2 linked regions of the Homo sapiens genome follow. The protein of the gene in region 1 purifies or fractionates together with the protein of each later gene. This does not show direct contact. Each region holds a gene or a part of one and is shown on either strand. Other genes may lie near its edges. The genes, in order: HACE1 and EIF2AK2.

The links.
Region 2: the proteins of HACE1 (region 1) and EIF2AK2 purify together in Homo sapiens (affinity purification with western blotting; one study listed by BioGRID). This does not show direct contact.

The regions. Positions count from the first base shown.
Region 1 is NC_000006.12:104,783,404-104,787,236, forward strand, and holds part of HACE1 (E3 ubiquitin-protein ligase HACE1), read right to left. Parts: intron 1,917-3,833; coding exon 1,582-1,916; intron 1,083-1,581; coding exon 1,014-1,082; intron 771-1,013; coding exon 683-770; intron 1-682. UniProt on the Homo sapiens protein: E3 ubiquitin-protein ligase involved in Golgi membrane fusion and regulation of small GTPases. Acts as a regulator of Golgi membrane dynamics during the cell cycle: recruited to Golgi membrane by Rab proteins and regulates postmitotic Golgi membrane fusion.
Region 2 is NC_000002.12:37,101,674-37,105,141, forward strand, and holds part of EIF2AK2 (interferon-induced, double-stranded RNA-activated protein kinase), read right to left. Parts: 3' UTR 1-3,468.

The sequences.
Region 1 (3,833 bases):
AAAACAACTACCATTTATTGAGCATATATCACAGTCATTCCTGACAATTTATTCTGGACAATAGTTCTATGAGGCTGCTGTCATTATCTCCATTTTGTAGATGAAGAAACCAAGGGCTCAAGGATATTAGGAAACGTGCCCAAAGTTCACATAGCTGGTAAGGAGCAAAACAAGCTTTCCTCCAGCTAGCTTCATGTAACATGAGATGTATGGAATGAACAGGTACACATCTGGTAGGGGAAAGGTGGTCAGGTCAAATAAGTTAGGAGGATTAACAAAGCTAAATCACTATTTTTACTGAAGGGCTTCTCAAAGCCTTTTAACATGCTGCCAATGTGATTTATAAATTTCCAAAGGGCATATGTTATGTAATTTCCCAAATGTATTTGGGGGCTAAAATCCTTTTCAAAAGGACAATCAGCCTTATAGAACTAAAGAGTTTCATTAAGCTCCTTTCAGGAAATGTGGCAATGTGTTCTGTTGTTTTTGTACAGACCTCTGTACATAGTAGGCACTCAGTACATATTTCTTGAAGAAAACTTACTCCTCATATTAAAGTAACATGCAATCATTCCTCTTACAACAGAATGTCTGAAGTGTAATAATTATTCCACTAAACAGTATTAGAATTTTAGAAATTAATTTCATTAGATAGAATAAAAAGATGAAGAAAAATTTCTACCTGTGCTTTTATGATATGCATGAATCTTGACATCAACTCAGGACATTCAAGGAGAAAGTGAAAGTGGTCAAATATAATTTTGGGATTTCTAAAAGAAAAATATTTTGTTTAAATGGACAGGAAGAATGAGTAGCATTAAGTGAAATGCAAATTCAGATACACTGACACTGAAACAGAAGAAAAACACATAATAATCCATATCTATTAAAGTTTCATTTGTTATTGAGCATATTTTGAATAGTACGAGAAATAGTATTTTTTCTGTTTAGATGAAACTGTAAGTAAAGAGAGGAAAGGCTAGCAGGGTACTCCACAAACCCAGAAAGCTTACCTATTAACAAAGCATTTTAAAACTTCATCATGTTTGCAGACAAATTCAATGAAACGAGGTGAAGTCATTCTGTGGGGGGAAAACATCAATCAGAATACACAGGCAAAAGTTTGTGATATAATATAGCGAACTTGATAAATATATACTGAACTGGACTGGCTTCTAAACCAAAAAAAAAAGAATTTGGTTTTGAATCTTCTTTGTAAGTTTAGGAAACTGAAGTATGCCTAGCCAATTTGTAAAATGATTCTAACTTCTCATCAGCAGACGATATCAACAAGTGACTTTTTAAAAATCTTGAAATTTGGTGCATTTCTGCTCTACACATTTCAAATACATAATTAAGAGATCCTATACAAGGTGACATTCACCATTCTACAAAGTAATAATATATACTGCTTAATATTTAAATATTCCCTACTAGATCTAGATTAGTATGAGTATCTTAAAACAAGGAGAAAACTTTAAATCAACAAATTATTATTTGTTGTTTTTGAAATTACAAAAGTATCACTGCTTTTCATCATCTATCAGAGAAAAAAAAAATAATAAGCCAAAACTTTCTTACCCCGGAGGCATCTGACAAGAACAGCACATGTAAAAAGCTTGAATGACAGCACTTAGCCGGTTAGCTGTCATAGAAATAACATCCTGACAATCTGCACTGGCTTCCTGTCTCCCTGCAAGAGCATCTGGTTTAGATTCCCTTGTGCCAGTGGACAGATTTTCATAGCTCCCAGGTCCTGGAGGTTCAAATGGAGGAATGGAAGCAGCATCTTGATCTTGGCCTTTTTGTTTCAGTAAAATAGAAGTGATCTCTGTTGAGTCTCTTTTGTTTTTCATCAATTCTGTGGCTATTAAAACTAGCCATTCATCTAACGAGTGCCAAAGCAATTCCAGAGGCTGAGAGAAACAAAAGTGTTTTTTAAACATCATTCTTAAACTACAGGATTAAAAAAAAAAAAACAAAACACAACTAGACAAATATTATAGAAGAGAAAATTTACTCTAGTCATTTCTATCTTCCCAAGTTAACGTGATAGTAATGCCTAAAGGTAAGTAATAAAATTATACAAATGCTACATAAATGACAATTTCTTCATTTATGGCAATAATTTAATTTGTATGTATGTATTCCTTGTAATAAAAAGGAAAAACTAAATCTAACAAAAAATTCACAATCTTTCTTCTTTTAATTTTCAAATGTTTAGTTTTAAAAGCACACATTACTACTATATATAATCACCCTTAACATTTACTGTATTAATATGATCAATGTCAACCACTTTCAATTAAACAAATAAGATTTTTTCAGTTAAAAAATGAGAACCCCTAAGTATAATCACTCAACATTTTCTGTATTAATATGATCAATGTCAACAACTTTCAATTAAACAAATGTCTTTTTTCAATTAAAAAATGAGAATCCCTAAAGAACCTAATGAACAGCTTTTTTACTGTGCTCCTTTCATTACATATAATTCCTAGAATTTGGATAATTTTTGACAAGAAATTACAAAATGTGGCATATTTATGTATATACATATACTTACAGACACAATCCATTTCTAATAATTAGTGTTTTTTTAAAACAAGAGATACAATTACCAAACTTCTATTAAAATACTGACTAGCAGGCCGGAGATGGTGGCTCACGCCTGTAATCCCAGCACTTTGGGAGGCCGAGGTGGGTAGATCACTTGAGGTCAGGAATTCGAGATCAGCCTGGCCAACATGGTGAATTGAAATCCCATCTCTACTAAAAATACAAAAAATTAGCCAGACATGGTGGCACACACCTATAATTCCAGCTACTCGGGAGGCTGAGGCAGGACGATCACTTGAACCCAGGAGGCAGAGGTTGCAGTGAGCTAAGATCACACCACTGCACTCCAGCCTGGGTGACAGGGCGAGACTCCATCTCAAAAAAAAAAAAAAAAATACTGAGTAGCAAATTCTTAATTCCAAGTAAAGATTAACACCTTTCTATTAAAAAAAAAAAAGATGAGGAGAGAATAAACTATTTCCTATTATTATTCTAGCTGGGTACACAGGCATGCACTTGTAGTCCCAGTTACTGAGGAGGTTGAAGGGGGAGGATTGCTTGAGTCTCGGAAGTCAAGGCTACAGTGAGCTGTGATCATGTCACTATACTCCAGCCTGGGTGAAAGAGTGAGATACTGTCTCCAAAAAAAAAAAAAAAACAAACAAACAAACAAAAAAAAAAACCTGCTAGGATATTTTTAATCCCAAATAAAGATTAATAGTTTATAAGTGGTACAGTGGTTAAACAATCCCTTCATCCTACACTATTTTAAATATTCTTATTGAGAATGATTAGCTATCCTTCTGCAAATAAATATAAAAGTTTATCTCACTTTTTGAATCTGACATGATTACAGAATGCTACAAACTACACCATGTGCTACAGAAAGACTCACCTTTAAAATATTTCAAGGAAAGAAATAATCTTTCTTTTAAAGACCGCCATGGAAGGAGATTATACAACCATATTTGGAACCTTAGAAAATGTTTGAACTATTCTGCCAGGAAATTCTTCCCAATTATTATCTAACAAATACCTTCACTGCCACTTTCAGCCTTTCTTCAGATTTCTGTAATATTCTCTTTTTGAAAATATTTTACTTACTGAATTTGCAAATAATTAAATCACCTCAGGCCTTCATTTACACGTTCAACCAAAAAGCAGAAAAACACAACAAAACCAACAAAACCACCACTACTACAATCAACAAAAACCTAGTTCACTCACTCAACCAGTACTATGCACTAGGTAGTCGGGTTAAGTACAATGTTTCC
Region 2 (3,468 bases), on another chromosome or scaffold:
ACAGGACAAATAAAAGCCGAAAAGAACTAAAACGCAGGGGTAAATTTTACAGAGTAAAGGAGACACATCAACCAAATGCAATGTTGGATCTAGATTTCAACAACCAAGAAAACTGTATTTTTGAGATAGAAACAATACAGACTATTATATGATAATTAAGGAAATCTTGTCAATTTTTTGAGTGTGACAATGATGCTGTGGTTTTGTTAAAAAGATTTATCTGCTAGAGATACATTTTAAAGTACTTACAAGTGCAATGATGTAACACCTGAGATTTACTTTAAAATATTCCAGTAGGGCCGGATATTGTAATCCCAGCAGTTTGGAAGACCAAGGCAGGAGAATCTCTCAAGGCCAGGAGTTTGAGACCAGCCTGGGAAACACAGCAAGACCATATTTCTACAAAAAATTTAAAAATTAGTTGGGTGTGTTGGTGTATGCATGTAGTCCCAGCTATTCAAGCGGCTGAGGCAGGAGGATCACTTGAGCCTAGGAGTTCGAGGTTACAAGGAGCTGTGATCGTACCACTGTACTCTGGCCTGGGTGACAGAGTGAGATCCTGTCTCTTAAAAAAAAAATTACAATTAAATACTTCACCAAAAGAAACAAACAAAAAGTAAGGGGTTAGATGTATTAAGAACGGTAAAGTATTGATATTTGTTGCAGCTGGGTGATGGGTAGAGTTTCATTATTCTATTTTTGTGTATGTTTGAACATAAAGAAATGTATGAATAATATTGAAATTATTCAATATTCCATAATGAAAAGTTAACATGCCAAGAATCTCAAATTATGGTGAACACTCAGTGGGGACTGCATATTGTGAGTTATGTCTCTAGTTAGTTAACAGATAGTAGAGACCTGGAAAAGCTTGTATGTAGCCTTTTAAACATTTCTTCTCAGATACATACATGCATATATATGTATTATATAAAATACATATTCATACACATATGTGCACACACACAGGATGGCTTCATGGACATGCAACCTGTGCAGTTGCACAAGACTGTGCTTAGAAGCACCCCACACCTAATTTTTGAACGAGGGCCGTACAGTTTCATTTTGCCCTTAGTCCCACAAATTATGTAGCTGGCCATACACACACATGCACACATACCACATACCCACATGTATATATGCATATATTGTGTACATATGTATATACATTGAATATATTTAACATAAGTGTTAAGTATGCATGTGAATTTTATGTATGTATTTATGTTAAACATGTACGTATTTAAATAACATGTGGTTTAGTGATAAAAATTCCCTAAAAGGTATGTTTCTAGGGAGGCAATTATATTAAAATGGCTCTCAAAATTTCTGTGTGTGTGTGTGTGTGTGTGCATTTTAATTAGCAAATAAGGTCCCAGGCTCTTGCCCCTGTCCTCCTCTGAGTAAGAGGATACTTTTTACTTTAATTTTGAGGCCAAGAAAATATATACTCACAAATCAAAAGAAGTTGCTAAGAAATGCTATATTCATTTAATAAGAGTAGGAATATATATATCTTTTTTTTTCTTTTTTTTTTTTGAGACTGAGTTTTGCTCTTGTCACCCAGGCTGGAGTGCAATGGCGTGATCTCAGCTCACTGCAACCTCCACCTCCTGGGTTCAAGCGATTCTCCTGCCACGGACTCCCGAGTAGCTGGGATTACAGGCGCCTACCACCACACCCAGCTAATTTTTGTATTTTTAGTAGAGATGGGGTTTCACCATGTTGGCCAGGCTGGTCTCGAACCCCTGACCTCAGGTGATCCACCCGTCTCGGCCTCCCAGAGTGCTGGGATTATAGGCGTGAGCCACCATGCCCAGCCAGAGTAGGAATATTAAAATGAGGTCAGTAAAGATAAGGCTACATTCTCACTAACTGGCCACATCATTTAGTGTTTCTTTTGAATATAGCCTCATTAATCAAAACCAGATATTGTTTTTTTAAAAAAAGATTTCTCTCTACGCAGAACATTTCCAAATCTACAGAAAAGTTCAAAGAATAATACAACAAACACCTGTGTACTGTCATCTAGATTTACCAATTGTACAATGGCTAATATTTTGCCACATGTGTGCCCTCTTTCTCTCTCCATGTTGATTTTTGCTGAACATTGAAAGTTGCAGACATCATGACACACTTGGCCTCTAAATGTTTGTGCATGCATTGCCTAAAAAAACATTTTTGGCTGGGTGCAGTGACTCATGCCTGTAATCTCAACACTTTGGGAGGCCAAGGCAAGTGAATCACCTGAGGTCAGGAGTTCAAAACCAGCTGGGTCAACATGGTGAAATTCCGTCTCTACTAAAAATAGAAAAAATTAACCTGGAGTGGTGGCAGATACCTGTAATCCCAGCTACTCAGGAAGCAGAGGCAGGAGAATCACTTGAACCTGGGAGGCAGAGGTTGCAGTGAGCCGAGATCGTGCCACTGCACTCCAGCCTGGGCGACACAGTGAGACTCTGTCTCAAAACAAACAAACAAACAAAAACAAAATAAAACAAAACAAAAAGACATTTTCTACATATACTATTATCACACCTGAGAAAACAGTTATTTGGCATTGTTATCTAATATGCAGTCTATATTCAAATGTTCTCAATTGTCCCGAAGATATCTTTATAGCTGTTTGCTGGGTTGTTGCTTTCTTTTATTATTATTATTATTTAGATATGATCTCACTCTGTCACCCAGGCTGGAATGCAGTAACATGATCATGGCTCACTGCGGCCTTGACCTCCTAGGCTCAAGTGATCCTCCCACCTCACCCCCCCAAGTAGCTGGGACCACAGATGCACACTACCATGCCCAGCTAATTTTCTGATTTTTTGTAGAGATGAGAACTCACTGTGTTGCCCAGGCTAGTCTCAAAATCCTATGCTCAAGCCATCCTCCCCTTTTGACCTCCCAAAAATGCTGGGATAACAGGCATTAGCTACTGCGTCCAGCTTTTGTCTTTTTAAATATCCAGAATACAATAAAGATTCAAACATTGCATTTGGTCATTGTATCTTACAAGTCTCTCCCCTTTTTTTTTTTTTCATGACACTGACTTTTTGAGAAGCCCAAGTCAATCATCTTATAGAATGACTACATTCAGGATTTGTCTAATAATTTCCTCATGATTAAATTCCAGTTTAACACTTTGTGCAAGAAAACTAAATAGGTAAAATTCTTAAGTCACATCAGGAGGGGCATAATGTTAGGGTGTTCCACCTTGGGTGATGCTAAATTGAATCACTTGGTTATTGTGGTGACCATTGTAAAGGTACATTTTCCCCTGTATAATTGATACCTCTTCTGTAGGATTATATTTAAATCCTTGTAGAAGATCCTATTCCACAATAGCTTTTCATCCAATAGTTTTAGCATCTATTGATGAACGTTACGTGAAAAATCTATGAACTGCTCTTTATGAACACTTTTTAAAGCCTTTATAAAACTATTTTCTCTTACTGTATTTTCACTTTT